Homo sapiens: one gene and its partner. The protein of the gene in region 1 purifies or fractionates together with the protein of each later gene. This does not show direct contact. Each region holds a gene or a part of one and is shown on either strand. Other genes may lie near its edges.

Region 1 (3,657 bases):
ACCTCTGAGGTTCTTTGCACTCTTAAGGTTTTTTTTTTTTTTTCAAACCTCTGAGGCTCCATGGGGTTTGCTATTACAGAACTGAATTGAATATTGAAGGGATAGAGAGTGGAGCCTGTACACAGAGGAGATTAGAGATAAAAGAACGTAACTTCTCTATCTCTTGAAGTTAACATAGCTGTGTCTGCCATTTAGATATGACCTAAGTTTTGTTAAAACCCTAAGCATCCCCCAACTACCATCCACCCTTCCAGAGCTTAAGAAGAAATACTCAGTTGAGAATTTAGTGTAAGGAGTTACTGGAGTCCTAACTTTATGCAGTTTTTCAGTTTATACTATCCTTAGATTTGTCCACATGTTCATGTTTTATTTTGTGAATGTTTTTGAGGGAGTTTTTGTTTTAAGGGGAGAATTGACGTTTGGTAACCTAATTGCTTGCTGATACGCTGGTGCAGTGACCTAAATATGTGGAATTTTCTGTGCAACAAGCTCCACATTGTATCCATGCTGTCAGTTGACTATCCTGATAGCTGCACAGTACTGGAATTCTAGTCGCTCATCTGGCAAGCAGTTTTAGAAATCGCCAGTGATTTTTCAATATATTACATTATAAATAATGTTACCCTATAAGTACCAAGAAACAGATTACTTGGAAGCATTTCTTATATTGATGCTCTTTTCATTATTTAAATATGAAAACTGATGTATAGTAAATTGAAATGTTCTATTTTTACCTTGAGGAAGATCCCGTAATGTCAGCAAATTATATCTGAACCTTTGTAAGAGTAAATATTTGCCTAAGGCAAGGGAGGCCTGGCCTGTTTCTTCAGACCAATGGATTTTTAAATTTGAACTTTACTTATAACTACAAAGTTTTTAATAGTAAAGTTCATTAATTTATAATTCATATCATTTTGTAGATGGAGCTTTATAATTAATGGCAAACATTTAAAAGTTCTTTTTATAAAATATAAGTAGTAGACTGTTAAATTAATGGAGAATTCGTATTTAATATAGTGACCGTTTTAAGGAACACTTGAAATTTCAGAAAAGGTAGTGAAACTGAGGCCGGGTGCGGTGGCTCATGCCTGTAATCCCAGCACTTTGGGAGGCCGAGGTGAGCGGATCACAAGGTCAGGAGATAGAGACCATCCTGGCCAACATGGTGAAACCCCGTCTCTACTAAAAATACAAAAATTAGCTGGGTATTGTGGCGTGCACCTGTAATCCCAGCTACTCAGGAGGCTGAGGCAGGAGGTGGAGATTGCAGTGAGCCAAGATCGTGCCACTGCACTCCAGCCTGGCAACAGAGCGAGACTCCATCTCAGAAAAAAAAAAAAAAAAAAGAAGGGGTAGTGAAACTGAAATGGAGAGATAGAGGCAGGATAGTAATTATCCAGTGTTTAAATCACCAGAACTGTAAGATCATGTTTTAGTCACTGAGACTTCCCAAATCTGTTGATGTTAGCAAATTGTTTTTAATGTATGATTTAATACATTAAAGGAAATATACAGAACTGTGGGTTTAACTTCAAAAAGCCAGTCTTACAGGGAAGACCTACACAAACATACATACTCGTAAAAGGAATTTAACAAACAGTATTTCATGGGGAGAGAGGAAGTACAGAGTGGGAGTCAGAGACTTGGGTTCTTGTCTGTGCCGAGCTAACTTGGGGCTTAACCTGTCAGTAGCTTAATTCCATCTTTGTAAACGTGGGAGTGGGAGACTATATCCGCTAAGGGCCCTCCTGACATTAAAAGCTTGATAATTCTCTTAATTATATTTGGGTAAAATTTTATGTCATTAGAAGGAGTTACATTGGGTATACAGTTGTTAAGTACTTAGCTTAATATTCAGTAAGCAATATTTAGTATGATGACTTCATGCTATTAAGAACAAAACTGTTTACCAAAAAATAATAATTGAGCCTTTTTACTTATGGGTTATGTTTACCATGAATTTCTTAGCTAATTCAGTGACATTTTTTCTCTCTTCCTATTTTTGACCACTTTGGCATTTAATGCTGGTGACCACTCATTTCTCGAAATTGTTCCTTCAGCTTTTACACTTTTTTTTTTTTTTTTTGAGACGAAGCCTCGCTCTGTCACCCAAGCTGGAGTGCAGTGGTGCAGTCTCGGCTCATTGCAACCTCTGCCTCCCAGGTTCAAGCAATTCTCCTGCCTCAGCCTCCTGAGTAGCTGGGACTACAGGCGTGCACCACCATGCCCGGCTAATTTTTGTATTTTTGATAGAGACGGGGTTTCATTATGTTGGCCAGGCTGGTCTCAAATTCCTGACCTCGTGATCCACCCGCCTTGGCCTCCCAAAGTGCTGGGATTACAGGCGTGAGCCACCGCGCCCGGCCAACTTTTACACTTTTTTCTTTTTAATACAAGAAAGTGTCTGCTTACCAAAAAAAAAAAAATCAACTAAAAATATTAAAATAAAACCACTTTCCCACCCCTCACACTACCAGGTGTCACGGTATGAGTAACAGTTTGGAGTATGTTTACTTGCTGCTTTTTAAGGAGTTTTTTCTTTCTTTTTTTTTTTTTTTTTTGAGACAGAGTCTCGCTGTTGCCCAGGCTGGAGTGCAGTGGTGCGATCTCGGCTCACTGAAAGCTCTGCCTCCTGGGTTTACGCCATTCTCCTGCCTCAGCCTCCCGAGTAGCTGGGACTACAGGCGCCCGCCACCACGCCCGGCTAATTTTTTTTGTATTTTTAGTAGAGACGGGGTTTCACCATGTTAGCCAGGATGGTCTTGATCTCCTGACCTCGTGATCCGCCCACCTCGGCCTCCCAGAGTGCTGGGATTACAGGCGTGAGCCACCGCGCCCGGTGTAGGAGTTTTCTTTTTTTAAAAACACTTCCTGTGGCTTGCTGATAAGAAGTTAGTTGCTCTTTTCCCTCCTACACTCGGAACTGTAGAATTCCTTTAGGCCCCACCCAATCCTCTGTTCCTCCTGTTTTCTAACCTACTAAACCAGACAGGTGTTCCCTCCTGCCTTCATCTAAACATCCATATTCCCTTGCATGATCATCACACAACCACACCCAACTCCTAAACCATTTTTTTCTTCATCCCCATCCAGTTAGGTCAGTTGCCTTATTATCATTTTTGGATTTACTATGCAAATTCTTGCCCTTATGAATATGTTCTTTTTCATCCTCCACCTAGAATTAGAATGTCCTCTGTCTATCCAGGTTCTGTTTGTGTCTCTGCCTGGTTTGAGTCCTGCTTTTCCACTCATCCTTCTCCGGCTCCTTCGAACATTTTCTTGAGATTTTCTAACCTACATATAATGAATGCTCAGTTAATGTGGTATAAAATATATTGTTATTATTGTTTCTTGTACATTGAGCTTATTACTCCATCATTTGTATCTTCCTATACGTAGAACAGTGTTGGAGTGTTGCTAGTTCAAGTACACTTTGAGCTAGCAATTGCATAATGCTGTGGGAGCTTACAAAGGTTAGTAGCCTCAGAGATGGGTAGGCAGAGAATTTTTTTTCTTTTTTTTTTGGTAGAGATGGGGTTTCACCATGTTGCCCAGGCTGGTCTCAAACTCCTGAGTCCAAGCAATCCTCCCGCCTTGGCTTCCTAAAGTGCTGGGATTACAGATGTGAGCCATCGCATCTGGCCGACAGAATTTCAT
Region 2 (3,657 bases), on another chromosome or scaffold:
TGCCACTGCACTCCAGCCTGGGTGACAGAGAGAGACCCTGTCTCAAAAAAAAAAAAAAAAAAAAGAAAGAAAGAAATTTTTTTGGGGGGGGCAGGGCAACATGATTATACTATATTCTTGCTATTTATGACAAGATTTTAGGAAAGAAATCCCATACACATTCAAGTATCTAAGGAAACAGGATGGTATAAATAAGAGTTAAGATAAGACTAGGAAAACATGATAATGTCCCTTTAAAACATATACACACATGCTCCTCGAGTTACAATGGGGTTACATGCCAATACACCCCACTGTAAGTTGAAAATATCGTAAGTAAAAAATGTAGCTCAGAGTGTCTTTGGTTAAAGAATCACCAATGCTTAAAGTCTGAAATTTCGTGGTTGCATATTGCTTTGACACCATCATAAAAGTGGAAAACATTAAGGTGAATGATTCTAAGTTGAGGACTATCTATCTATCTGTCTGTCTGTCTATGTGCATGCATACACACACACACACACTCCTACTAGGGCAAGATAAGATTCACCTCCTTTCTTATCTTGGTGGATCAGGACCAAAAAACTCCTAACGTTAAAGGTCCCTGAGTAATTTAAGGAAATGTATTGTACATACTTATTTGTTAAACCATTTTTAGCTATGGGCATGATGAATAGATTTAACAATCAGTGATTATCTTGCCTATAAGCATTTGGTTGATACTTTTCTAGTGGGACCTCTCCCTGCTGGGCAAAAGTTGAACCACACCCTCTTCCCACACAGAAATCAGTCTTTCTGAGAGGAGGCTACATGTAGATGCGAAGAGGAATTCTATATGGCCGTCTTTTTTTTTATACTTCCTCTTTCCTGAGACATAGCTGACTAGGCCAGGAGTTGGCTCTTACCCAAGGCCTGGCAACCCATATATTGACTAACAGCCTACAATGTGACCTGTGCCAACAACCAAGTGTACCAATCAGATTCTTTCTCTCTCCTTTCTTCCTTCCTTCCTTCCTTTTCCTTTCTTCCTCCCTCCCACCCCCCTTTCTTTTTAAGACAGGGTCTCACTCTGTCACTGAGGCTGGAGGGCAGTGGCGCAATCTCAGCTCACTGCAACCTCCACCTCCCGGTTTAAGTGATCCTCCTGCCTCAGCCTCCCAAGTAGTGGGACTACAAGCACGTGCCATAACATCTGGCTAATTTTTGTATTTTTTGCAGAGACAAGGTCTCACTATGTTGCCCGGGCTGGTCTCGAACTCCTGAACTCAAGCAACATGCCTGCCCCGGCCTCCCAAAGTGCGGGGATCACACAGGCGTGAGCCACCACGCCTGGACCAGATTCTTTCTGACTCAGGAATCTGAACTCAGAGATTGAAGCAATGGCAGTGGGAGCTAAAGTTAAATGACTCTGGGGGCAAACAATGGGTCATATAAAAATTAAAGATAGAAAAAGGGAAAACAATGTATAAGGACAACTGAGGTAGAGAAGAGATGTAATAGAACAAGGGAGAGGGGAACACAAACATTTGTCACTGAATTTCCTATGATATCATCATTTCTGGAATCTTCCTCCAGTTCTCCAGTTCATCTTCTTGAAGAGGATTTGGGTTGGTGGGTTCTCAAGCTCTTACATCCTTAAACTCCTTGTTATTTGCAATAACTTGAGTTAGAATTGACAATCTTGCAAACAAAAGAGCTTAAGATTTAAATGAATAATCTTTCCTATTACTGAAACTTTCAAAGTCATCAGCTTTTCATTTTAACACAAACTCATTATCAGAATTCATAAACTTTTTAGTTTAAAGCATTTTAATCTAATCAATAGCTTTTCCCACTCGTATTTGACTACAAGTATTCTTTTTTTGTTTGTCTGAGATGGGGTCTCACTCTGTCACTCAGGCTGGAGTTTAGTCACGTGATCTCAGCTCACTGCAGCCTCCACCCCGCAACCCCGTTACAGTGATCCTCCCACCTCAGCCTCCCAAGTAGCTGGGACTATAGGTGCACACCACCATGCCCAGCTAATTTCTGTATTTTTTTGTAGAGGTGGGGTCTCACTATGTTGCCCAGGCTGGTCTCAGACTCTCGGACTCCAGCAATCTGCCCACGTCAGCCTTCCAGAGTGCTGGGATTACAGGCATGAGCCACTGCACCCACCCAAGTATTCTTAATATTACTTTGGAATGTTCTGAAGTAAATTTTTAGGTTAGAATCTAGTCATACTGGATGAGAAGAGGCAAAATAATTTTTTAGACAGATAACTTGAGGCTTATCCCCTTATTCTGGTCATATTCTAAACTGAATTTTCATAAGTGGTAGTTTGGGTTTTAATTTTCACAAATATCTCAACATACATGACTTAAAGTTGGGTTCTCCCAACTATAATTTTGAAAAAAGTTACTAATGCACATAATTTGAGCAAAATGGTTCTTTAAAAGATCAGAGTGATAAGATAATAACAAAGAAGAGTTAACAATAAAGAATTTGAATTTTATGAAATTAAAGCCACAACATAATTTTCTCCAAAGAAAATAATAGAATATTAGAGGTAGAAGGTATCACAAGGATTTATCTACTTTAAAATTCTCATTTTACATATGAAAAAACTTAGACACAGAAAGGATAAATGCCTTGCCAAGTGTCACATAATCAGATAGCAGCAAAGCCAGGTCATCTATTCCAATTCAGCATTTTTTCCACTACATACTAATATTTGAAACTAATAAACTGTTAAAAGTTTTAAAAGACTATAAAATTACAATTAATTTCCTAAAGTACTCTAAAAAAAACTCATTAATTTTGTTCTGCCGTTGTTATATATGTATTATATATGCATTTATTTAAAACTCAGGAATAATTGTTAAGGGAATAGAGAAAGTCAGAGTACTCACAAATCCAAAAAGTAGGTACAGGTTAAGGGGATACTTATGTCTGTTTAAAATCAACGCAAAAATCAAACCCAGAGATCCGAGGGCAAACAGCAAAATTAAGGCAGGACTGAAAGACATAATATTAAGTGTTTCAAGTTAAAGAAAAAATAGCATGAGCAGTATTATCAAATTTAATAAAATTTATCTATTTTATATGTTTATGAAAGTACAGGGGAAAAAATCTGGAATGATCCACACCAAACTATCAAATTATTTTATATCTGGAAAATTTGAGGAGTACAAGGTAGAAAGGAGCCTCAAGACAAAGAAAAGAGCCCAAAATGAATGGGGGAAACTTTTTCTTTTTACCATATAAACTTCTATCACATTTGAATAATGTTTGCAATTAGTATACTAATATTATACAATAAAGAAATTTAAAAATAACAACTACTTTCTTAGGATATTTGCCATATGGCTGTAATTTAAATTAAAGAATTTTACCTCACATAGCAAACTAATAGTTCAAGACTCCCCTTTGGTGGGGAGAAGGGAAGGGAGGACAGAAATTCTCTACTTCTATGAAAATATTCATTAGTTCTCCTTTCCTTTAATATAACAAAACTGTATCATGGAAATAATTATGATTCATCCCTGATTAAAGATCAGGGATGAATCATGTGGAGCTCTTTTGAAAACTTCTTGGTGAAATTATGCTAGTCATGAGCCAAAACTAAAATGAACGCACATTTATTTTTCAAGTACTGTCTTAGGCTTTGAGCACAGGGAATATAGTCTAATAAAGTTT

What was found. Proteins that work in one complex are often made in the same cells at the same time.
Region 2: the proteins of CMTM6 (region 1) and TMBIM4 purify together in Homo sapiens (co-immunoprecipitation; one large-scale study listed by IntAct). This does not show direct contact.

Annotation. Positions count from the first base shown.
Region 1 is NC_000003.12:32,496,287-32,499,943, reverse strand, and holds part of CMTM6 (CKLF-like MARVEL transmembrane domain-containing protein 6), read left to right. Parts: intron 1-3,657. UniProt on the Homo sapiens protein: Master regulator of recycling and plasma membrane expression of PD-L1/CD274, an immune inhibitory ligand critical for immune tolerance to self and antitumor immunity.
Region 2 is NC_000012.12:66,149,401-66,153,057, forward strand, and holds part of TMBIM4 (protein lifeguard 4), read right to left. Parts: intron 2,977-3,657; coding exon 2,871-2,976; intron 1-2,870.